Homo sapiens: one gene and its partners. Each later gene encodes a partner of the first gene's protein in a complex. Each region holds a gene or a part of one and is shown in the gene's direction. Other genes may lie near its edges.

Region 1 (3,121 bases):
AACAGCCTGGCCAAATGGCAAAACCCCGTCTCTACTAAAAATATAAAAATTAGCCGGATGTGGTGGCGCACACCTGTAATCCCAGCTACTCGGGAGGCTGAAGCAGGAGAATCGCTTGAACCCAGGAGGCAGAGGTTGCAGTGAGCCGAGATCACGCCATTGCACTCCAGCCTGGGCAACAGAGCAAGACTCTGTCTCAAAAAAATAAATAAAAATAAAAAAGAAGATGTAGGCCTCACACCCCATTTCCTCCTCTCAAGTCCAGCCCTAACTCCCCACCACTGCCATGTCTCTTGTGAGCAAAACATATTCCCTTTTAGTTTAGCTGATTTCTACAATGAAACTAAGGGGAAATGTTTGACTTATTTACTTCTGTATCTTCAAGACCTAGCATCTGGTAGATCCTAAATAACTGTTCACCAAATAAATGAATAAACACTCCTAATAAGCAAAAATATTTTTAAAAACCAGGAAGCCTTTGCTTCTCTTGTCTCTTGCTTACAAAATAATGTTGAAATATCTCAGCATGACACATGAGCTCTTTCACAATTTTGGTCTCAAAGTTTTCATACCTTAAAAATGCCTTCAACCGGGTGCGGTGGCTCACCCCTGTAATCCCAGCACTTTGGGAGGCCAAGGCAAGAGAATTGCTTGAGGCCAGGAGTTTGAGACCAGCCTGGCCAGTATGGTGAAATGCCATCTCTACTAAAATTACAAAAATTAGCTGAGCATGGTGGCGTGTGCCTGTAATCTCAGCTACTTGGGAGGCTGAGTCAGGAGAATCACTTGAACCCAGGAGGCGGAGGCTGCAGTGAGCCGAGATCGCACCACTGCACTCCAGCCTCGGCAACAGAGTAAGATTCCAACTAAAAAAAAAAAAAAAAAGGCCTTCGGTTTAGCTATAGATGGCCAGGAGCTGCTTATCTGCCATTCAGACTCTGGGTTCCTTTCCTAATCTTTGCTTTACCTCAAATTCCAAGTCAATCAATGACTCAATTGTTTTTGTTTTTGCTGTTGTTGTTTTGGGGATTTTTTTGTTTTTTGTTTTTTGTTTTGAGACGGAGTTTCACTCTGGTCGCTCATTCTGGAGTGCAATGGCAAATCTCGGCTCACTGCAACCTCCACCTCCTACGTTCAAGCAATTCTCCTGCCTCAGTCTCCCGAGTAGCTGGGATTACAGGTGTGCGCCACCATGCCTGGCTAATTTTTGTATTTTTAGTAGAGATGGAGATTCACCTATGTTGGCCGGGCTCGTTTCGGACTCCTGACCTCAGGTAATCCGCCCTCCTCGGCCTCCCAAAGTGCTAGGATTACAGGCGTGAGCCACCGCACCCGGCCAATGAATCAATGTTTACTGAGCACCTCCTGTATACTAGCTAGGTGCTTTGTCATCCATTTATCATGTTTAAAGGTCACAGCATGCCCCTGAGGGATGTGTCATTCTCTCTTTACAGATGAAGACACCAGCCAGCCGCGGTGGCTCACACTTGTAATCCCACCACTTTGGGAGGCCGAGGCGGGCGGATCACAAGGTTAAGAGATAGGGACCATCCTGGCCAACATGGTGAAACCCCATCTCTACTAAAAATTCGAAGATTAGCTGGGCATGGTGGCATGTGCCTGTAATCCCAGCTACTCGGGAGGCTGAGGCAGGAGAATTGCTTGAACCCAGGAGGTGGCAGTTGCAGTGAGCTGAGATCGCGCCACTGCACTCCAGCCTGGCGACAGAGTGAGACTCCATCTAAAAAAAAAAAAAAAGATGAAGACACCAAGGCTCAGAAAGAGACATGCATGTGGTCACCTAGGTAGTAATCCGACTTTGGAGCCTTCTATCTCAAGCCCGCCACTCTCTGCTATATACCTCAGTGGAGCTTCAGCTTTTACAGGGACTGCGGGAAATTTGGTGATGCTGGGGGAGTCTGGAACGAGCCCATTTGAGGTCTCCTTTCCAGATACCTTTGGAGAGACTGGTCAAGGATAGAGTGTCACCATCCTGCTCTCTTTCATCCTGCCTGCCCCCAGAGGCATGCCAAAGGGAGGCTGCAGCTGCCCGGGAAGAGGCTGAACAAGCTCTCGGAGAGCGGGACCAGGCCCTGGCTCAGCTTCGGGCCCACATGGCAGACATGGAGGCGAAGTATGAGGAAATCTTACACGTAAGCACCACCCCCTGGATCCCAGCCATCCCAGTACCCAGGACTCCCCCATGCCCACAAACCCCAGCTCGTATGATGACTGACAACCCAGGGTTAAGGAGAAGGAGCGTCTCCAAGGGAGCCCTGCTCTATCCTGAGGGCAGACAGAGGGGATACGACCATGTCTACTGGGCAAGGAAAGCTTATGAACCAACCTGGGGCAGCACTCACTCCTTCCCTCTCTCTCTTTCTGGGGTCTGAAATATTGATGTCTGCAGGACAGTCTGGACAGGCTCTTGGCCAAGCTGAGAGCCATCAAGCAGCAGTGGGATGGGGCAGCACTGAGACTTCACGCCAGGCACAAGGAGCAGCAACGCCAGTTTGGACTCACCCCCCCTGGATCTTTGAGGCCACCAGCCCCTAGTCTCTAGTGTTCTCTGAGGCCCCAGCAATAAAGTGTCTTGATGTAGAACTCAATAGAGCTGTGGGCTCTGGCCGTTTGGCAGAGAGAAGTGGATCTTATTTTTATTTTTATTTTTATTTAGTTTTCTTCTTTTTTTGTTTTTGTTGTTGTTTATTTTTAGGAGTGGCTGTCATACAGACATCTCAGTTCTGGGTTGACCCATTATCCCTGAGATTCAGTGATTGATAGGAAATAAATTTGACCAGGTCTCAACCTCTCTCCTGCAGGAGCCGCATCCCACCCCTTGAGCCTGAGGCCCTTTTGGTCCCTTCACACCACTGCCCCTTACCCCCACCAACACAAACACAGGCAGTCAGATTTATGGCGAATGGCCATTTCTATAACAAATGCAACGGTGACCAAGCACCACCCTCCCGCAATGCTAAGGCACCCACAGAGGGCAGGCATAGCTGGTCTCCAAATTTTTGCATTACACTCAAGGGTCCTGGAGTCATATCTAGAAAAGGTCCAGATGGCTTCAATCCTAGCCAGACCCACAGCCACACCTTCATCCTTGGGACACAGC
Region 2 (7,033 bases), on another chromosome or scaffold:
AAAGCATGTCCCTTGCCAGCCTGGGCAACATAGTGGGACCCTGTCTCTACAAGAAAATTTAAAAATTAGCTGGCTGTGGTGGCATGCACCTGTTGTCCCAGCTACTTGGGAGGCTGAGGCAGGAGGATCACTTGAGACTGGGAGGCCGAAGCTGCAGTGAGCCATGTTCATGCCACTGCATTCCAGCCTGCGCAACCCCACCCCACCACAAAAAATAAAAATAAAAATAAATTTAGAAAAAGAAAGTTGCAGAGCGGGGTCATAACACCCCGCTCTGCAACCCCCTGGGAGTCCCAGAGCTGGCTGTTCTCAGTTCTATCCCAAGTAGCCATCATGAGCCCCACATGCTGCCAGGCCTTTCTTGTCTGTTCTGTCAGTTCCTCTGAATGTCGTTGGCCAGGGCCTTACCCACATCACCAGCCTCCCTTCTCTGAATTCAGTTTCAGCCTTTATGTGAAATGGAGGCAGAAGGATCATAGTTGTATTCATAGTAATTCTAATAAGTGCATTCGTCTGGCATCACAAAGCACCACAGATGCGGTTGCTTAAATGACAGAAATTAATTTTCTTACAGTTCTGGAGGCTGGAAGTCTGAGATCAAGGTGTGGACAGGGTTGGTTCCTTCTGAGCCCCCTGTCCTCGGCTTGTAGATGGCTGTCTTCTCCCTGTCTTCACATTGTCTTCCCTCTGTACAAATCTATGTCCTAATCTGTTCTTATAAGGACACCAGTCATTTTTCTTTTTATTTTTTTTTGAGACAGGGTCTCCTCTGTTGCCCAGGCTGGAGTGCAGTGGCACGATCATAGCTCACTGCAGCCTCGAACTCCTGGGCTCAAATGATCCTTCCACTTTGGCCTCTGGAGTAGCTGGGACTACAGACACACACCACCATACCCAGCTAATTTTTGTTTTTCAGAGAGACATGGTCTTGCTATGTTACCTAGGCTGGTCTCGAACTCCTGGGCTCAAGAGATCCCCTTGCCTTGGCCTCCCAAAGTGTTGGTATTACAGGCATGAGCCACCATGCCCAACCAACACCAGTCATATTGGGTTAGGGCCCACTCTAATGAACTCATTTTACCTTAATCACCTCTCTAAAGACCCTGTCTCTAAAAACAATCATTCAAACAGTAAGTGATCAAGACAACAACAACAACAAAGAAAAAATAAGAAAAATAAATAAAACAAATACAGTCACTTTCAGGGCTTAAAACTTCAACCTATGAATTTTAGGGGGATGCCATTCAGCCCGTAGCAAAAGGTAGCACTCACATGGTCCTTACTAAGCACTGGGATCCATTGTATCTACTTAACCTGAAGTAACTCATTTAAATCCCCACAGCCACCTGGTGAGGTGGGCACTGGTATTACCACCTGTGATTAATATTATCCCATTTTACCGATGGGAAGACTCACACACAGAGAGGTTAAGTCACTTACCCAAAGCGATACAGCTGGTAAGTGACAGAGCTGGGATTTGAACCTACACAGTCTGGCTCCACAGTCTGGGTTCTCAATGGTAACTCTGTTCTACCTCCTGGGGCTGCTTGATGTGATGTGCTTGGCACAGCAGTGTAGACCATCTCAAAAGGGTGCTAAATGTTCTCAGCATCCTCATCTCCAGAGACTGGGGACATCTTGTGTGCAGTAAATCCAGGCATAGGTGCCCCCTGCTGGCCTTGGGGCATGGACCAGCCAGGGCCTGAGAGCCCAGCCCTGCAGGCAGCCGGCTGAGCACCCACATGGCTAATAATCAAACAGTTCCAGTCACAGAGTCCTGGTCCACCCTGGCCCAAGAGCCCTCATTACAGCAAAGACGGACAGAGGGCAGCCCAAAGAGTCAGAACCCAGTCATGGACCCCCAGGAAAAACCAGACCCCGGGTGACAGCCCACCCACCTGACCATCTTAGAGATTTTTGACAATACTAACTGCTGACTGCTCACTCATTTTTGTCCCCTGCAAAATGTCACAATTAGATAAACAGTTGTCAGAGGTATGAGCAATGTTTGTGGAAAAAAGGTTTTAAGTCGAGAAAGTCTTATCCAAGTTTCTGTGATTATCTAGTTTGAGGACCATTTATCTAGATCGGGCCTTATTTCACAAATGGGGAAATTAAGGCTCAGAGAGGAAATAATAATAGGCCGGGCATGGTGGCTCATGCCTGTAATCCCAGCACTATGGGAGGCCAAGGTGGGCATATCATTTGAGGTCAGGAGTTCAAGACCAGCCTGGGCAACACGGTGAGACACCACCCTCCTCCCCCGGCCGTCTCTACTAAAAATACAAAAATCAACTGGGTGTGGTAGGTGCATGCCTGTAATCCCAGCTACTCAGGAGGCTGAGGCAGGAGAATCACTTGAACCTGGGAGACGGAGGTTTCAGTGAGCCAAGATTCACTGCACTCCAGCCTGGGCAACAGAACAAGACTCCATCTCAAATGATAATAATAATAATAATGTCAGCCAATCAGAGCCCCAAGGCCTTTACAGACATTATATCATTTAATCCTCCTAAAAGGTCCAGTTTACAGTTAAGAAAACTAAGGCTTAGAGCAGTTAAAGGACTTGCCCAGGACCCCTTAGCTGGTCTTGGAGAGAGGGTGGGGCTTGGGTACCCTGACTCCAGAAACACCTCTCTAATCACGAAGGGCCTGCAGCCAGGGCAGGGGGTGCTGCTGTCCTAAGCCAGGCAAGTATAGGGAAGGGCTCCCTGCCCAGAGTCGACTCCTCCTTTTCCACATCATGGGTCGTGCTCATGACCTCCAGTTCCCCTGCGGAAGCCAACGGACCACCTTGGCTTGGCTCTGCAGGCAGAGACAGAGCTTTGACCATAACTTCTGCTTCAACACCCTGACCAGCACCACCTCCCCCACCCCCTTCTCTCCCATCAGGGCAAGGAGGATGAGGATAAGAGCTTCGACATGCCCCACTCGTGGGTGGAGCAGATTGAGATCTCCCCGGAAGGTATTTTCTATTTGTGTATTCACTTATCCTCTCCAGATCCAGTTCCTGGGCCTCCAGAGAGGTCTGCAACAGCGAGGCAGGGGGACACAGCAGGGAATGCCATGCCCCACATTTCCACCCTTCTCACCTTCAGCTGCACCCTCCCTCCCTCCCTCCCCCCTTCCTGCCACACGCACTCAGCTCTGACCCCGAGGGCCTGACGACCAGTCTGGCACACGGGGCGATGCAGTTCAGTGAGCATGTGTGGGATGATGGCGTGTAGGTGACAGCAAGGCCTGGAAACCCAGCCCATTCCCCTCTCACACTCTTCTACCCAGAGGAGGCCATGGGCAGTGCCCAGATGGTGCGGGGGGTCTCAGGACCGGAGAGGGGCAGGTAGAGAAGGCAGGAGGGCAGGGACTGTCATGCTCCATGTCAATATCTGCTGGTGCCCACCTAGGGAGCACCCAGACCTATGGGGAGGGCATGGGCCACTTCAACAGGGTGGGAAGTGCCAGAGAGGCTGTCATGGGAACCCAGAGGGGGGCGCACCCAGCCCAGCACTGGGGCTAGGGCCTGGGGATGGGTGAGCAGAAAGGGGTACCAGAAGTAGGCTAGGGGTCACCTGGGTGAAGTTTGGAAGGATCTGAAGGAGTCAGTCCAACAAGGGGAGGAGGGGATGACGGTGTTTCTGGCAGAGACCTGTACAAGCAAAGGCCTGGCAATGTGAGAGTGTGGTTGGCTGCAGGGCAGACCCTCTGATGGGGCTCAAATCCCATTCTTGGGTGGATCTGTGCTTCTGCCTGGCCTGAGAACCCCTCTAGGGCTGGAGCCACCCCTGGTGATTATTCTCCTCGGCCTCCCTGGATCAGGCTTGGGGCTGGAGGAGTTCAGTACACAGAGAACGGGCAGTGGATGGATGAATGGCTGGGCGGGGCTGGCCCTCCCTTCCCCCAAACTAGCAAGAAGAGACCACAGCTGACTGTGTCCACAGCATTTGAGACCCGCTGCCCGAACGGGAAGAAGGTGATTCAGTACAAGAGGGCAAAGCTGGAGAAGTGGGCCCCGTACCTCAATAGCAATGGCCTTGTGAGCCGCCTCACCACCTATGAGGACTTGCAGTGTAAGGGGGATTGCTCTGGACATGGGTCCAGGCCAGCCCAGGGGCGGGGGCGGCTTCTACTCTCTCTGGGGTCATTGCTGGCCTCTGTGTGCCTGGAATAAGGGGGGTTGAAGGCTAGGGGAGCTGGCCTGGCTGCGGCAAGTGTCCATCGGCCCCACAGGTACCAATATTTTGGAGATAAAGGAGTGGTACCAGAACCGGGAAGACATGCTGGAGCTGAAACACATAAACAAGACCACAGACCTGAAGACAGACTACTTCAAGCCTGGCCACCCCCAGGCTCTGCGCGGTGCGTGGCTCCCCTTTCCTGGGCCACCCAGGAGCCTGGGGTAGAGGCCTCACACACCCTGTGGCAGGTGGTATGTGGTGGCAGGAACCAGCATACATATTATACATGGGTTCTTGGGCAGCAAGCAGTAGAAGCTGCCCTGCCTCCCTCAGCAAACCCGATGTGTGGGAGGTCAGGGAAAGCTCAGAAATTCTAAGGAAATATAACAAATGCTCCTCCAGGAAAGCTAAAGGGGGCGCCACATACCCGTTCTGTGGTTGGAATCAGGCCGGAACCTCACCATGGGGTCACACGGTGGAGGCCACATTTAAAGGAGGCAGTGCCGGACACAGGGGCTCACACCTGTAATCCAAGCGCTTTGGGAGGCCAACATGGGCAGTTGAGCCCAGGGGTTCAAGACCAGCCTGGGCTATATGGTGAAACCCCATCTCTACAAAAAATATAAAAATTAGCCAGGCATGGTGGCATGTGCTTGTAATCCCAGCTACTCAGGAGACTAAGGCAGGAGAATCACTTGAACCCAGGAGGTCGAGGCTGCAGTGAGCCGAGATTATGCCACTGCACTCCAGCCTGGGTGACAGATAGAGATCCTGTCTCAAGAAAAAAAAAAAAATCCTGACCAAGAAATTTACAAAAGAAAAGCATAGGAGTAATATACATTTTTTTTAAATGATCAACCTCATTTGGAAGTTGATAATAAAAAAAAAGAAACTAATAAGGTCCCTAACCAATAAAGGACCATCTTATAACCCCCATGTTGGCAAAGATGAAAAAAATGGTCCTACTGGGTATGAACAAGTATGGGAGCAACAGTCACTCTGTGTCACTGTTGATGGGACAGCAGATTGGAACTTTTCTGGAGGACAGTTGGGCAAAATATTGATAATGACCATAAAACGTGTACGCTTTTGGCTGGGCACAGTGGCGCACACCTATAATCACAGCACTTTGGGTGGATCACCTGAGGTCAGGAGTTTGAGACCAGCCTGGCCAACATGGTGAAACCCCGTTTCTACTAAAAATACAAAAATTAGCCAGGTGTGGTGGCAGGTGCCTGTAGTCCCAGTTACTTGGGAGGCTGAGACAGGAGAGTCACTTGAACCCAGGTGGCGGAGACTGCGGTGAGCTGAGATCACACCACTGCACTCCAGCCTGGGTGACAGAGCGAGGCTGTGTCTCAAAAAAAAAAAAAAAAAAAAAGTACACTTTTGGGCCCAGCAATTCCACTGCTGAGAATTTATTCTTAGCAAATAATGGACAAGAACAAAAAATGCACGATGCAGATGTTCATCATGGTGTTGGTAATAATCAGAAAAAGTTGTACGCAACCTAAACACCCAGCAATAGGGGACTGGTTCATAGCTAACCTCATCCATAATGTGGGTCTGTCTTCTCCCTGGGCCTGGGGTTGGGCGACCAAGCCAGCAGCCATACTTCCTAGTGCTTATGAAGCTGTCTCCTCCCAACTCCCGCTCCCCACCCAGTGCACTCGTACAAGTCCATGCAACCTGAGATGGACCGTGTCATTGAGTTTTATGAAACGGCCCGTGTGGATGGCCTGATGAAGCGGGAGGAGACACCCAGGACAATGACAGAGTACTATCAAGGACGCCCAGACTTCCTCTCCTACCGCCATGCCAGCTTCGGACCCCGAGTCAAGAAGCTCACTCTGAGCAGTGCAGAGTCAAACCCCCGGCCCATTGTGGTAAGAGCTCGCGGGGGCTGGGGACAGGTCGCCCTCCTTCTCTGGCAGCTGATGTCACCTCTGAATGGTGAGAGCCCTGGCTCTGGGGTGGCATTAAGGCCTGAGACATATCCAAGGGCACCAATGATGAACCAAGCATTTTACCAAATGTATTAGTCTGTTCTCATGCTGCTTTGAAGAAATACCTGAGACTGGGTAATTTATAAAGAAAAGAAGTTTCCTTGACTCACAGTTCTGCATGGCTGGGGAGCCCTTAGGAAACTTAAAATCATGGCAGAAGGGTCCTTTTCACCTTCTGCCTAGTGAAAAGGGTCCTTTCCACCTTCTGCCTAGTGAAAAGGGTCCTTTTCACTAGAATCAGGGCAGCAGGAGAGAGAATAAGTGCTGAGCAAAGGGGAAGCTGCTTATAAAACCATCAGATCGTGGGAGAACTCACTCACTATCACGAGAATAGCATGGGGGAAACCACCTCCATGATTCAATTATCTCCACCTGGTCCCGCCCTTGACCTATGGGGATTACAGTTCAAGGTGAGATTTTGGTGGGGGGACACGAAACTAAACCATATCACCAAATGCGCCATCCTGGGGTTGTCTGGTGTCAGACTGTGCCCTCAGCCATGGGGCCAAGGATGTGTTACTTCCTTATTGTTATACAAAAATACACACTCATGACTAAACATTTGGAAAATATGTAAAAATGTAGAGAAAAGTAAACATATCTCAGAATGGCATCTCTCATATGTTGCCACGGATTATAGGTTTGGTTTTGAGAGTTTTTTCTAATGTAATTGAGATCGGGACCCAGGGATTAGAGTCCCTGTATTACCCACTTAACATGAAATTGTGCATTTTCCCCTTCATGTCATTACAAATTAGTTGGCAACTGTGTGTAATGGCAGCATGCCAAAGAAGCTCTTTCTAGCAGTAAGGGATGTCTAGCAATGGAGTAGGCTGCCTGGAGAGGTGGTGA
Region 3 (7,033 bases), on another chromosome or scaffold:
ACGGAAAGGTGAGGAGGTGTGGTGCAGGTGAGCAGATGGTACTCCCATTGCCCTGCAGGTGTACAAGCAGAAAGTGAAGCACCTGCTATATGAGCACCAGAACAACCTGACAGAGATGAAGGCTGAGGGCACTGTAGTCATGAAGCTGGCACAGAAAGAGCACCGCATACAGGAGAGTGTGCTGCGCAAGGACATGCGGGCACTGAAGGTGGAGCTCAAGGAGCAGGAGCTGGCCAGTGAGGTGGTGGTGAAGAACCTGCGGCTGGTAGGTGTGGCGGGGGCACCTGGAGGCTGACAGGTTGTTGGGACGGCAAGCCTAGTGCTGCATGAACTCCTGTTTATTCAACAGCAACTGGGAATTCATATTTCTGCATAAGACTTTCTGCATTTTTGCAATTTGTTGAAAAAAAATTTTTTAAAGCATGCATCCAAACAAACCCCATTTTGGGACCAAGTACACAATTCTGTCTCAGACCTGAGCAAAAAATTGACGTCACCGAAGAGAAAAAATCCAGCTTAGGATCTTTCATGTGCTGCTGACACCTGACACCCAGAGACTTTTCCTAGGGAATAGCATCATATGCATTTAGTAGAATGCAAACCAACCATTAAAATATCCAGTGTGTTGACTCCTGGGCACTGTGACAGTTTGTCACACAAGCTGGTCTGATTTTTACTTTTGAGGCTGGGGGTTTCCAGGGCACCATTAAAATTCATCTGTGCACCTGGTTCAGTGGCTCACACCCAAAATCCCAGCACTTGGGAGGGTCAGGTGGGAGAAGTGGTTGAGGCCAATAGTTTGAGACTAGCTTGGGTGAAATAGTTGAACCCCATGTCTAAAAAATTTAAAAGAAAACATTAGCTGGTGTAGTGGCACATGCCGATAGTTTCAGCTACTTGGGAGGCTGAGGCGGGAGGATCCCTTGAGCTCAGGAAGTCAAGGCTGTGGTGAGCTAGGATTGTGCCACTGCATTCCAGCCTAGGTGACAGAGTGAGACAAAACAAAAAGGAAAGAGATCATTTGCTGAGTGTCCATTAGCTGCTAGGTCCTGATCTGATCTCTGACAAAACGCCTGCCCGACTGGGGCTGTTGGTCTAGAAAGGAGAGACAACAGGTGAGTTGGAAGACAAAATAAACGTGCCAGATACAACAGAGTATCTGGTGGGGAAGAGTGCCATAGAAGGATCGAAGTGGGGAGAGGTGGGGTGCGGTTTTGTACAAGCAGTTGACCGGCTGGGAGACGGGATGGGCCAGTGGGAAAGCTCAGAGTGACCAGGAGGAGACTGTGGGAGAGGGTCAGAGCTTGTCCGCCTCGAAAGCCGTGGTGGGGACTGGAGACGGGTCAGAGCTCGTCCGCCTCGAAAGCCGTGGTGGGGACTGGGACTTTGACCCTGGTGGAGTCTGTTGCCCTCTGAGAACTTGGGCAGAGGAGAGATGTGTCTCACTAAGGTTCTTCCTGGCTGCTGGGTTGAGGAGACTTTCTGAACACATTTGCCTCACGCCTGGAAGCAGTCCAGCCTCCACTGAATCTGGAAGAAACTTGGTGACGTTGCTGACTTCGCAGCAAAGCCTGAGAGTGCCGAAGTCTTGAGCCCTCCAGAATTAGCTGGTCTTAACCCAGGTCCTGGATATGATATTGTTACATAATCAGAGTTTCCTGTTGGGTAAAAATATGGCTTTAGGCCGGGTGCGGTGGCTCACGCCTGTAATCCCAGCACTTTGGGAGGCCGAGGAGGGTGTATCACGAGGTCAGGAGTTTGAGACCAGCCTGACCAACGTGGTGAAACCCCGTCTCTACTAAAAATACAAAAATTAGCCGGGCGTGGTGGCGCACACCTATAATCCCAGCTACTCGGGACGCTGAGGCAGAAGAATCACTTGAACCTGGGAGACGGAGGTTGCGGTGAGCCGAGATTGTGCCACTGCACTCCAGCCTGGGCGACAGTGTGAGAGTCTGTCTCAAAAAAAAGAAAAATTACTGCTTTAAAAATAATTTATTTTTTTATGCAAATTTTAAATATATAATGTTTATTTAAATATATAATAATTGTTCATTAAAACTATATATTTATTTATTTTTAGAGATGAGGTCTCACTCTGTCTCCCGGGCTGCAGTGCAATGGTACAATCATAGCTCACTGCAGCCTCGAACTTCTAGTCTCAAGTGATCCTTCTGCCTTAGCCTCCCAAGTAGCTGGAACTATAGATATGAGCCACCACACCCACCTAATCTTTTTTTTTTTTTTTTTTTTTTTTTTTTGAGATGGAGTTTTGCTCTTGTTGCCCAGGCTGGAGTGCAGTGGCACAATCTCAGTTCACCACAACCTCTGCCTCCCGGGTTCAAGCTATTCTCCTGCCTCAGCCTCTCGACTAGCTGGGATTACAGGCATGTGCCACCATGCCCGGCTAATTTTGTATTTTTAGTAGAGACGGGGTTTCTCCATGTTGGTCAGGCTGGTCTTAAACTCCCGACCTCAGGTGGTCTGTCCAGCTCGGCCTCCCAAAGTGCTGGGATTACAGGCGTGAGCCACTGTGCCCGGCAATCTTTAAATTTTCTGTAGAAGATCTTGCTATGTTGCTTAGGCTGCCCTTGAACTCTTGACCTCAAGTGATCCTCCTGCCTTGGCCTCCAGCGTGCTGGGATGACAGGAATGAATCCTTTTAATATGCTGCTTCAGGCAGCAGTGCAGCAGGTTGGAAGCTACACACGGCACCTGGAAAGATCCCACAGCTCTGTGTGGATGTGGCTGCTGCTCTTCAGGCTGTGGGATGGTTTGGCGATGGAACCAAGCGGGTTCAGTGCTCACGACGTCTGTTCATGTTCTCTCTCAAGCTTAGAGGTGACTTTAGTTGAGGGAGGTGAGTTAGGGAATATGGAGGTGACCAAAACCATGAGGAACAGGGTCAGCCTGAAGGGAGCGGGCTTCCCTCTGTGTCCGGCTGTGTAGTAATGGCCGCTTCTCCCTGTGCAGAAACACACCGAGGAGATCACCAGGATGCGGAATGATTTTGAGAGGCAAGTTCGAGGTCAGTTTCCCGTGTGCTCATTGTGTAGGTGCCAGAGACACCCCCGCCCCATCAGAGAGGAATTTACCTCCAGAGCTTGTTAACTCAGGGAGCAAAAACTGGATTAAAACAGCCAAGGCATGCAAGAGAAAGAACATGGAAGTTTCCAAGGCCAGTGGACCCACTCAGAATCCCAGAACAACCTATTTCCATGTGAGTTTGGGAGGCTGTGATTACCACACACATTCCCACTCCTAGCTAAAATCAGTAGTTATCAGCAGGTGGTAGCTATTCAGTGCCGTGGGCAGCCTTCTTAAAATAGTCTTCTCCATGGCTCCTGGTCTGAGAAGGCTCCAATTTCAGAAGTCTCTGTGTTTTACTAATAAAGGCTGATTGTGGCTGGGTGGCCACACAGGCCTCGGTTACTGCTCACTGGGGTCAGCTGACATTCAGCTGTTGGCACCCCCAGTGCAGGGAGCGATTAGCAATGCCTGTCACTGGCAAAGGCAGGCCGACAGTGGTGTGTGTGCTGAGTGTGAGCATCAGCAGAAAAACTCAGTCTAAACCCCTTTGTTCTTCTCTTGCAGAGCTTTTGCCTGCAAGGCTGTTCTGACCACAGTGGGCGTTTTGGGCCCGTTTACAGGCTCCATGTTCTGTAGCCGTAGGGGCACCACGTCTTCCTCTGCTAAGCTGCTGTTTGCTGCTGCCTTTCAGAAATTGAGGCCAAGTATGATAAGAAGATGAAGATGCTGAGGGACGAACTCGACTTGCGGAGAAAGACTGAGCTCCACGAAGTGGAGGAGAGGAAGAATGGCCAGATCCACACGCTGATGCAGCGCCACGAGGAGGCCTTCACCGACATTAAGAACTACTACAACGACATCACCCTCAACAACCTGGCCCTCATCAACTCCCTCAAGGTGCTGTGCGTGGGCTGGGCTGGGGAGGCACACTCTGCCTGTCCTAGAATGTGGGCTGCAGAGTCCTGGGGATCCAGACCCCAGCTCTCCACCCCAACACACCCAGTACTTTTTATAAGATTGTTTGACAATGCCCCTCTCATATCCTTAACTGAAATTCCTAAATAACGTAACCTATCTCTACCTATTGTTAAAAGCAGTCAGGATATTGCCCTCACCGTAGTGCAGAGGGGGAAGTAATGAAGTGTGTTCTGGTTTGTAAAAGCTCAGATGGAACCGCAGTGAGGGCCGTGATGTGGCTGGAGTGGATAGGTGTCATAGTCACTGCCTGCGACAGGTGGATAGGTGTCATCGTCACTGCATGCTGGCAGTGACAGGATTTTCTACAGTAGACAACGGCCCTTGGTGGAATCTTGAACAAAGTATAGTCCTTCAGTCTGCATGGAAGCTGCATTCCCAGAAAACTCAGAATAAGTTGAAGCTGCAGAAATACTGTTTATACATAGAAGACGTCTAGGTGCCAGCATGCCTGAGGCTGGCAGCAGCTGGTGATGGGCAGGAGAGCACCCAGCTCTCACCATGCAGGCCACAGCCCCTTTGGTTCTGCCTGCTGAGCCCCTGCCGGGCCTGTGCTTGTGCCTGCAGGAGCAGATGGAGGACATGCGGAAGAAGGAGGACCACCTGGAGAGGGAGATGGCAGAGGTGTCTGGGCAGAACAAGCGCCTGGCAGACCCTCTCCAGAAGGCTCGGGAGGAGATGAGCGAGATGCAGAAACAGCTCGCAAACTACGAGAGGGACAAGCAGATCCTGCTTGTGAGTTTCCCGCTGGATTCCTCTCCCTCCTTGGCATGAGCTTGCCTAGGCTCAGGAGGGAGGAGCATCACAGGGAGGGGCTTGGCCCTTAGGGCAGGAAGGGAGACGGGGAGGCCTGCATTTCTCCTTTCTCTGCCTCGTGTTCTCCTGGGGAAAGTAAAGTCTGGGGGTGTTTTGGAGACAAGGCCCTCATCTTCACCACGTGCTACCGGCCGGCCTTGGTGAGACTCAGCTGCTTGTGTCCTGGAACCAGGTCTTTCTGGCGATTATTTTTGGCCTTGCCATCTCCCAGGAGCCCGTGTTACTTGGATGACTGTGAATCTTGAATACTTTCTGTCCCCTACTCCCTGTTTTTCCTCCAGTGCACAAAAGCCCGTTTGAAAGTCAGGGAGAAAGAGCTGAAAGACCTGCAGTGGGAGCATGAAGTGTTAGAGCAGCGATTCACCAAGGTGAGTGGCACCACGCTGGCCCTGCAGTTGGCGGTGGGTGTTAGAGCAACGGTTCACCAAGTTCACCAAGGTGAGCGGGCACTAGGCTGGCCCTGCAGTGGGGATGGCACCCCTGCTAGCCAGGGACGGGGCTCTCCTTGTGGCCCCTGGACCAGCTTCAGATGCCTTGGCCAGGTTTCTGGGTTCTGAAGCTGGAGGCCCTGTTCCCTGTAACTCATTCCGCAGCTTCTAAGAGGCAAAAACCTGTGGCCTGTTCTGCATGCATATTCTGCAGAAGGCCTGGGGTCTTGATGGGGAACGGATCACACATGACTTTCGTCCCCTCGAGAGCTCACCTCTGAAAGCACATGAGGGAGGCTCTTAAGTGTAAGTGAAGATGAGTCTCCGGCTGCTCAGTGCTGGTCCTCACACTGGCGAGTTTTATGGGCTCCCTTCCAGGTTTCCTGCATGCTCTCGTGTGGATGTGACTTTGTATGTTACGAACACGGGATCAGGCCATAAGCACAATTTGCTTTTTAATCTCACAGTGTATCAGGCTGCACATAGGAAGCGGTCTCATCCTTTTCACAGCTGCTTGGTGCTGCGTTTTGTGAACGTTTGATCATTTAGCCGACTCCCGTCTGTTTCTAATGCTCTGCTGCTATAAGCATTGCTGCCTCAATCCTTTTAAATTTGTCTTTGTGCACTTGTGTGAGATTGCTTCTTAGGAAAGCCAGTTCCTAGCAGTGGGATTGTTGAGTCTGAGGGTTCTGTTCTGAGGACCCTGATCATCTGTCCAGAGGGCTGCTCTGAGTCACACACCTGCCAGGGTGCGGAGGGGCCGTTTCCATCCTCACCTGCACCAGATCTGACAGGTTTAAACCTTTGCAGAAGTGACTGGGTGGAAAACATCTCATTTCGTGGGCACTTCCAAGATTCGCAGTGAGTGGTAGGGGTGCTCGGTCCTGTCTCTGTCCCTTAAAGACGCTCCTTGCCTCTGTTCAGTTTCAAAGTTCTGGCCAAGGACCAATCCCTGCAGCATGGGCCCCTCAAGGCTTTGTCTGTGGTGTGCGGGGCCAGGGCATCTTATCTTGAGCCGCAGTTATATGTGCTGTTTTGTTCTCTAACCTAATTGAAATTTTTGAACACAAACCGTTGTAGTGGGATTCGCTTCTCAGAAATATCCCATCTGTCTGTCAGATCTAGCCCCACCTTCAGAGACACCTCAGGTCCTGCACGACGTGCATTGCTAGGCTGTGCCAACTCTTGGCACCTAAGGGAAGGGCACCTGCAAGGTAGTCAGTGAGATCCTGAGGACTGCTGTGTTAGACAAGGGGCCCTTCCTTCTCCCTGTGGGTTTTGAGGTGGACATTATTGGGAAGAGGACAGCAGAGACGTGCCTGGGTTGGAGCCTTGTTTTCTGTCACATTTTCTTCCATTTGAATGTGGTTCCTGACAGTGTCCAAGCTGGTGTCTCTTCCTAGAGAACCGAGAGCTCAAATTTATCAGCAAAATTTAGAGACCAAGGCAGTTATTTATTTATTTATTTATTTATTTATTTATTTATTTATTTTTGAGATGGAGTTTCGCTCTTGTTGCCCAGGCTGGAGTACAATGGCACGATCTCGGCTCACTGCAACCTCCACCTCCTGGGTTCAAGTGATACTCCTGCCTCGGCCTCCCGAGTAGCTGGGATTACAGGCGCCTGCCACCACGCCCGGCTAATGTTTGGTATTTCTGATAGAGACAGGGTTTCACTCTGTTGGCCAGGCTGGTCTCGAACTCCTGACCTCAGGCGATCCACCCACCTCACCCTCCCAAAGTGCTGGGATTACAGGCGTGAGCCACCACACGCTGCTCAGGGT
Region 4 (7,966 bases), on another chromosome or scaffold:
CTGGTGCCTTGATTGGTCCTGATTGTTAAATCTTATTTGTCCCTGACCAGTAATGAGTTGAGAGGCCTTGTCCTGGGGAGATGAATGTAATCCTGACCCTCCTGTCCCCTCCCTGCAGGCCCGAGAGCTAGGCCAGAGCCTGGCCCAGGAAGTGAAAGCGGCCACTGAGCGGCTGAGTCTGGGGAGCCGGGATGTGGCGGAGGCACTGAGGCTGTCCAAGGACATAGGACGACTCATTGAAGTGAGGGCCACGCCTACCACCCCACCCTCTCCTAGCCCTATTACCTCCCCTATTCCTCCCTGGACTCCTTCAGACTCTCCCTAGCACTCCAATTGGGTTGGGCTCCAGCTGGCCCAGATATTTGTCTGCAGGGTGGGTGTCTTCCCTGGCCCTGCTGGTCCCTACCTCAGAGACTATGGCTCAGGGAAGGGCAGGGGTGATGTACTGCTTCTGGCCATAGGCTGTGGAAACTGCTGTGATGCCCCAGTGGCAGCGGCGGGAGCTGCTGGCCACAGTGAAGATGCTGCAGCGGCGTGCCAACACTGCCATCCGTAAGCTGCAAATGGGACAGGTGAGAGGAGGTTTGGCTGCACCCATGTGCCCAGAGACACTCCAGCAGATACACTGAGAAGTCTCAAGGGCTGGGGCATGGGGGTGAGTCAGAGGCTGTGCAAGGACGGGGTGGTGGCAGCTTCCTTCTCCTGCCAGCTGAGAACCATCACCCAGGCCATTCCCCCACTTCTGTCTCTTTCAAACTGTGTTTCTCCCCCAACTCCCAAGTCTGGCTCAGAACCCCCGGAAGCCTACTGACTTGATTAGTGCCATTCAGCCCTGATTGCACCTCCACTGTGGATCCCCCTTTCTCCCGCCCACTCCTGGTCCATCTGTGCTCTGACCTTCCTCCTTTCACCTTCAGCGACCTATTTGTAGGGGCCTGAAGCTATGATGAAAGGGAAGTGGTGAGGGAAGTGAGGAAGGACACATGTGGGACCCAAAAAGGAGGCCACCCTAGGCAGAGTCCCTGCCACCTCTGCCTAGAGCTAATGACTTTTGGGGTGGGTGGGGGAAGCAGGGGATTGCTCAGCTGGGGCTTAGTTCAGAAGTTGGGGCTAATTGGAAACCTGCCTCTCAGCCTGACCCCTCTGCTTGTCCTTCCTGCCCCATAGGCTGCAAAGAAAACTCAGGAGCTGCTGGAGCGGCACTCGAAGGGGCCTCTGATTGTGGACACAGTCTCTGCTGAGTCTCTCTCAGTGAGTGCTAGCCAAGCCGGGCTGCCCCAGGGTCTGGGGAGGGCAAAGTCCTGACCAGGAGACAGCTAGGGGTCTGGGAAGCGATGGGCTCACCATCTGTCTTTCGTGGTCCAGGTGCTGGTGAAGGTGGTACGGCAGCTGTGTGAGCAGGCCCCCAGCACGTCTGTGCTCCTACTCAGCCCCCAGCCCATGGGGAAGGTGCTGTGTGCCTGTCAGGTGGCCCAGGTGAGGGAAGTGGGAGAGCAGCCCACCGCCCCCATTAATACCCATCCTGGTCCAGCTCTCTGATTTTACACCTTTAATTCCTCCCAAAGGGGCCAAGGCTGGGTGGAAGTATCTATGAGGATACTCCAGGACAGGGATGGGGAATCTCCTTGTTCCTGAAAACAGCCCCTCCCCACCCCAGAAGGCACCAAGAGATTCCTTAATTCCTAACCCCTCCCAGGCCTCACATCCCTTGTAAACAAGTAGCAGATGTTCACGTTCATACACCTCCCCACACACATTTCCAGCCCAAACCTTCTCCGGCTCATCACCTGACTGCCCCACCATGTGCCCAGCTGGGAAGGGGGCACTGATGACCTTCAGCTCCACTCTTGAGGGTACCTTGAGTGGATGCTGGCAGGGAGGGCCACTCTGCATCGCTTCCTCTTCTGATTCTGTTCCTAGGGTGCCATGCCCACCTTCACAGCAGAGGCCTGGGCACTGGCAGTGTGCAGCCACATGGGGGGCAAGGCGTGGGGCTCACGAGTGGTGGCCCAAGGCACCGGAAGCACTACTGACCTGGAAGCTGCCCTCAGTATAGCCCAAACCTATGCCCTCAGCCAGCTCTGACCCAGGTCCGCCCAGGGACCCACATGGACTAAAGGCAATGCCAGGAGCCCTGAAGGAGCCAGCAGAACCTTCCCACATGCTGAAGCGAGGACTAGAGGCTGGAGGCCAAGCAGCTGAGCCAAAGAAGATCACCTGGGCCAGGGCCTACGTGACACAAGGAGACATGGGCTAGGGAAGGCAGAACTGGGCCCAAAGACACACACCCCCTTGGTGAAAGAGAAGACATGGACAATTATGGCTGTGACTGCACATTAGAAATTATTTCACTGGCCGGGTGTGGTGGTTCACACCTGTAATCCAAGCACTTTGGGAGGCCGAGGCAGGTAGATCATGAGGTCAGGAGATCAAAACCATCCTGGCTAACATGGTGAAACCCCATCTCTACTAAAAATACAAAAAATTAGCCGGGTGTGGTGGCACACGCCTGTAGTCCCAGCTACTCGGGAGGCTGAGGCAGAAGAATCGCTTGAACCTGGGAGGTGGAGGTTGCAGTGGGCCAAGATCGCACCACTGCACTCCAGCCTGGGTGACAGAGCGAGACTCTGTCTCAAATAATTATTTCACAGAGGATAGCAAGCTCCAGAAGGTTCTATTACCTTTAAAAAAGAGTAGTTTTGCCCCTCCCAGCAACCTAAGACCAGTCTGAACTCACACTGTCTGAAAGGCCACCCAGGATCCAAATCGGGCCATCTTCATTGCCATGAGTGTTCGGACAGGCTCTGCGTGCCAGGCAACAGTGGGCAGACAAAGGGCTCCCTGGCTACTGGGAAGATACAGAACCATCCTGTGAAAATCATTTCAGCACTGGAGACCTTCTTTGCTATTACTTCTTTCATTAACAATGACCTCTAATTTAAATTGGGCCCTGCTGGTTTGTTGATGAATTGAGCAACTGAGAACGTGGCGGGCACTAAACTGACAGTTCCTTCCTTCATGGAGCCTGCTTCATGTGGAGGAAACAGGAAATAAAGCAAAAGAAGAGGGTCAGGCTTGGTGGCTCATGCCTATAATCCTGGCATTTTAGGAGGCTGAGGTTGGAGAATCGCTTGAGGCCAGAAGTGCAAGACCAGCCTGCGCAAACAGCAAGACCCTGTCTACAAAAAAAAAAAAAAGTAATCTTTATGCCTCAGCCTCCCAGGTAGCTGAGACTACCCACACCTTGGTCCCAGCTACTTGGGAGGCTGAGGTGGGAAAATCACTTTGCCCAGGAATTCAAGGCCGCAGTGAGCTATGATTGCACCACTGCACTCCAGGCAACAGAGTGAGACCCTGTCTTAAAAAAAAGAAGGGAGAAAGTGTCAGATGGTGATGAGGTCTGGGGGGGAAATAGAGAATGGGGATCAGGAGTGTGGATGGTGATATTCCCTCACCAAGAGGTGACATGTGAGCAGGGAGCTGGGAGGTGAGGGTGTGACCCGTGTGGAAATCAGGGAAAAGCATTCCAGCCTGAGGGAACAGCCAATGCAGAGGCCGTGAGGTGGCCAGTGCCACTGAGCAGTGAGCTGGGATAGGGGCAGGTGAGGAGGCTGGAGAGCGGGGTCAGACAAACAATATGCTTATTAAAACAAGTTGTACAGCACCTGCCTCAAGCCTGAGCTGAAGCTGAAAATTGGCACTTCAAAGCAGGAGGAAGCAGAGATGGAGGAAAGCCCTCCTTCCCTACCAGAATGAGTCCACCTCAGACAGCCAGACTTTGGACCTCTGCCTTTGTTCCTAGATCTCTGTTGCTAGATGAAGGAAAGGGCCTCAGGGGATCCATCTTCAAATCAAGGGCTCCCTGGCTACCAAATTCTGTCTAGTAAAAATTATTCGAGCAGCGTGGGCCCGCCTGGCATCATTTTCTGCAGTTTCTCATTCTAATTAAGGCACTGATGATTTGCTGGTAAGGCACTGCTGAGGGCTTGAAGGGACCCAATCCCGGGTGCCTGGCCCCTCACTGCTTGCAAAGCAGCATCCTGGCCACTGGGGCAGTAGCCTGTTTAGCAGTGCTCACCACAGGCCCAGGTTCAAGCTCCTCCGCGAGCGCCAAGATGAGTTTTGGCACCCCTGATTTATTGATGAGTTAACAGAGCTTCGAGATGTTCATCCAGGGTAACCAACTAGTAGTCCTCGGCAGAGCTGAAGTCAAAGCTACCCTTTGAAAGCCCCGCCACCCTGGCTGCCTCTCCCTTCCTGAAGGCCAATTTCTTTTTTTTTACTAGCCGTCCCTCTGGTCTGTCCCTCTCGCCCTCCAGGAGATCTGGGGCCCCAACCACATCTTGTCGCGCCAGGGCTGGAAGAGAGTTTGGCACAGGGCATGGACTGTGTGAAGGAGCGCTGTGTTGGCCTGGAACCTTCCTGCGTCTGGTACCAGACCTTCAGCTGGGGGAAAGGTGGAAGGTGCCCTCCCTCCCGCAGGGCCTAAGGTCAACAGGAGGCCTCACGGGAGTTCCAGTGACTTCTACAGGTGCCTTGGAGAAGGTGCGTCCACCCTCCTCTTCTTCCACAGACGCTTTTCCTGGACCAGCTCCCTATCCATTGCCACACAAAAGCTACCAAGAGAGCACAAGCACTCCAGACCAGCAGCCCTGCCCGACCCCCGCCTCCCGCAGAAAGCCCACCCGTTCCTAGACACGTCCCACGGAAGCACAGGGCATAGCGCAAGGCCACAGTCCCACTACCCGCAAAGCGGCCGCTTCCACGGAACCGTCCCGAGGCCGGGCCTGGCCACCCTGCGCGCGAGTAAGCCGCGTGCCTGGCGCGCAGCGGCAGCGGCAGCGGAGGAAGCAGCGGCGCGCTCGTCCTCCCGGCCCGGCCCGCTCCTAGCAACGCGGGGCGTCCCCAACGACAAAGACCTGCGCCGGCGCGCGGGACTCTGCGTGAGGCGAGCGCCGGGGCTCCCGGAGCGGGTGAGGCGACCTCCGGGAGTGGGGACACCCAGCCCCGGTCTCCCTTATCGGGGCCCCCTCTGGCCGGCTGGGCCCGGGAGCCCCTCTAGCGTCCTCTGCCCACACCGGCCCGAAGCCCACGGGCGGCCATTGCCTGGGTTGCGTTTTCCGTGGCGGGGAAGCGCCGGTCCGTACCCACGGGAGACCCCACGCCCTCCACGCGAGGACGCCCCGCGCCTCCTCCCCACCACAGTCACTGTCTGCAAACCGTCTGGCCCGGGGCTGGGGATCCGAGTGAGGCGAGGGGAGGGACTGGGAAGAAGAGGGGGAAAGTGGGGCATCCGTAGGGCGTGGAGGAGAGCGGTCCCAAGCCCTGGGGCCCTAGGCTTCTCCGAAAGGCCGTCCGTTCCCATCACCCGAGGGCTGTAATCCCTCCCGCGGGTGCGGAAGCTTCCTCATCTCCCTACCTCCCACTGCACTGCCGGTTTCCCTGGGTTACCAAGGAGAAGCCAGCGCCTCTACACCCCAGGTAGGATGGGGGAGGGACTCCTGGCCTTTGGAGCTGAGCTTCTCTGCTGGGGTGTCTGAGCTGAAGGTAGGGAGGAGGGGTGGGAGACTCCAGAGCCGCTGGAGTCACTTTTGAGACAACAGACCTGAGTGGTCAGGAGTTGGGAGGAGGCCAGCCCAGGGGCTGTGGTAAGTGAACTGGCGGTTTCACCCAGCCCAAGTCCAAGCACACGGGCCGAGGCTCAGTTGGAGAAAGTTTTTTGCCCTTCCACAAGTGGAATTCCCAACTTGGGAGTGACTTACCCCAAAGTAAGACATGGTGGGCATGAAGGATATGGAGGTGGCTGTAGACAAAAGCCCAGAGCCCTGAGAACAGAGGAGGGCTCTCCTGAGGGGATCTGGGGTGGGAGCGGCTGAGAAGGCAGAGAAGGCAGTCAGAGCAGTGGGTGCAAAGCCAGCTCCTGGGGAAGTGTCCCGGGCACAGAGGCGCTGTCTGCCCAAAGAGGGCCGGGTGTCTCCACTTCTCCACTAAGAGGAAGGGAGGAGGGGACAGTTGAGGACCAGAACTGTGATGCACAAGAAGGTGAGAATGCAAACCTACAGCATCTTCCTCGTGTTCCCATTAGGGCAGGTGGAAGGAGCTCCTACCCAGAATGGTTAGATTTAGCTGGGGACCTGAGGAAGGATGGAGAAGACCTGAGACTTCCTGTGGAGGGAATATGCCAGGGGCAGGAGAGCACCACTCTGCAGCACTCTGTTGGGCTCCTTGCACCCTCCAAAGGATGCAGGCAGTGGTCCAGCCTTGCGGAAGTCTCCTATACCCAGCAGTGAACTGGAAGAGGGAGCCTGGACTATTTAGGTCAGCACCAAGGGTATAACCCTGGGCTCCATATTGGTGAACAAGAGAGCTCATGAGCTGGAGAAAGTGGGAGACCCACTGGAAAAGTGCTATGAATGACTGAGTTGGGAGCAATTTATAAGCAACCCCAGCATCTCATGGAAGTAAGAGCATTAGACAGACACAAACTAAAACCTCAGCTTCTCCACTTACTAGCTAGTGACATTTAGTAAGTTACTTAAGCTTTCTAAGTTTCAGTTTCCTCATTTGTGAAATGGGGACAATAGTGTTAAATAATAATCCTCAATAATTAATTTGAGATTTTAATAAAATTATGTAGTAAGGTATCTAGCATCTTCACTACAATATCTAACACACATCTTGAGTGCTGGCTCTGGGCCCAGCACTATATGAAATGTCTCACACACATTAGCTCCTTAATCTTCTGAGTAATCCTATGAAATAGATACTATTAAGTACTGTCCCCACGTTATAGATGAAGAAACTGAGGCAAGTGGGGACCTGCCCAAGGTTGCACAGATAGTGGGGGGCACCGTGGAGATTTGACTTGAGGCAGCAGCACAACTCCTGAGTACTTAGCCAGCTGCTGTCCTGCCTCCTGCTATGTACATGTTATTGAAGGCCTAGAGCTCTCAATAAATCATAGCTATATATAGCCAAGGGTATGGTTCCCAGAACACCTGTCCACCAGATTCAAGCCATCAGAAATGAGGACAACCCTGGCCAAACTGGAACATCTTGTCACTTTCTATTACCTGTGCTTGGGCATGGAAAGAGCAGTCCACACCCAATCCTTTGAGTTAATGTCCTGGTATAGACGTTGTTCCCTGTGTGTGATTTCAGGACCCTGGACCCTGGTCCTGAGGATGCAGAGTAGGGGCCCAGGGGAGGAGGATTGGCCTTTCCCTGGGGACTGTGGTCCCAGGTTAGAGACACAACCATGTGAAGCCAAACAAGCTGGTGAGGCAGGCCCCAGAGAAGTGAAAGTCCACTGCACGTGTCCCCACTCTCCCACTTTCCCCCTCTGAGAGCGCAGCACATCCTTGGATGGAGACACCAGGTGGTGGCACAAGACGTACCCACTCCTGGTGGCCCTGACCTCTCTGGAATGTCAGGATTCCTGCCCTGCCCATGTTCAAGACTGGAGTCTTGAACATGCTCCTAGTCTTCAAACTCTGGCATTCTCTGACTGGCCCAACAGGTTCCCAGGGAAAGAAAGCTCCGGAGAGGAAGGTGACCCTTCAGCCACCTCCAGGACTGCCCTCTGTGGGTCCTTGGGGACTGTCCATGTGCCCGGGGCCCCCAGCTATTGGGTATCCACCCATCCCTGCAGGCTCCCAGGGAAGATAGTGCCACCTACTTGCACCCTCAGCTGCAGGCTGATGACTGCCAGGCCAGACTAAGACCAATCTGTGAAACAGGCAGAGCTCTCTCAGACTCCTGTCTTCTCCTTTACCCACTCCCCACCTCCTCTCCTTTCTGTGGTTATTCTCCTTGCCTCCTTTCTTTTTCTTTCTTTCTTTTTTTTTTTTTTTTTTTTTGAGACAGAGTTTTGCTCTCATTGCCCAGGCTGGAGTGTAGTGGCGCAATCTCAGCTCACTGCAACCTCTGCCTCCTGGGTTCAACCTTCATTTTTTTCCCCTAATTA

What was found.
Region 2: DRC12 (region 1) and DRC7 share a complex: the UniProt entries of both Homo sapiens proteins name them as parts of the nexin-dynein regulatory complex.
Region 3: DRC12 (region 1) and DRC4 share a complex: the UniProt entries of both Homo sapiens proteins name them as parts of the nexin-dynein regulatory complex.
Region 4: DRC12 (region 1) and DRC5 share a complex: the UniProt entries of both Homo sapiens proteins name them as parts of the nexin-dynein regulatory complex.

What each region holds. Positions count from the first base shown.
Region 1 is NC_000011.10:119,189,742-119,192,862, reverse strand, and holds the end of DRC12 (dynein regulatory complex protein 12), read left to right. Parts: intron 1-2,022; coding exon 2,023-2,153; intron 2,154-2,221; exon of another isoform or gene 2,222-2,296; intron 2,297-2,410; coding exon 2,411-2,563; 3' UTR 2,564-2,609; downstream 2,610-3,121. UniProt on the Homo sapiens protein: Component of the nexin-dynein regulatory complex (N-DRC), a key regulator of ciliary/flagellar motility which maintains the alignment and integrity of the distal axoneme and regulates microtubule sliding in motile axonemes.
Region 2 is NC_000016.10:57,718,775-57,725,807, forward strand, and holds part of DRC7 (dynein regulatory complex subunit 7), read left to right. Parts: intron 1-2,892; coding exon 2,893-2,965; intron 2,966-3,938; coding exon 3,939-4,067; intron 4,068-4,227; coding exon 4,228-4,356; intron 4,357-5,840; coding exon 5,841-6,061; intron 6,062-7,033. UniProt on the Homo sapiens protein: Component of the nexin-dynein regulatory complex (N-DRC) a key regulator of ciliary/flagellar motility which maintains the alignment and integrity of the distal axoneme and regulates microtubule sliding in motile axonemes.
Region 3 is NC_000016.10:90,032,660-90,039,692, forward strand, and holds part of DRC4 (dynein regulatory complex subunit 4), read left to right. Parts: intron 1-58; coding exon 59-265; intron 266-2,973; coding exon 2,974-3,028; intron 3,029-3,721; coding exon 3,722-3,927; intron 3,928-4,572; coding exon 4,573-4,740; intron 4,741-5,102; coding exon 5,103-5,189; intron 5,190-7,033. UniProt on the Homo sapiens protein: Component of the nexin-dynein regulatory complex (N-DRC), a key regulator of ciliary/flagellar motility which maintains the alignment and integrity of the distal axoneme and regulates microtubule sliding in motile axonemes.
Region 4 is NC_000006.12:44,294,666-44,302,631, reverse strand, and holds the start of DRC5 (dynein regulatory complex subunit 5), read left to right. Parts: upstream 1-4,933; 5' UTR 4,934-4,973; exon of another isoform or gene 4,974-5,481; intron 5,482-6,085; exon of another isoform or gene 6,086-6,318; intron 6,319-7,966. Other genes in the region: AARS2 (alanine--tRNA ligase, mitochondrial), read left to right, coding at 119-241, 462-572, 1,168-1,251, 1,366-1,476, 1,921-2,085. UniProt on the Homo sapiens protein: Component of the nexin-dynein regulatory complex (N-DRC) a key regulator of ciliary/flagellar motility which maintains the alignment and integrity of the distal axoneme and regulates microtubule sliding in motile axonemes.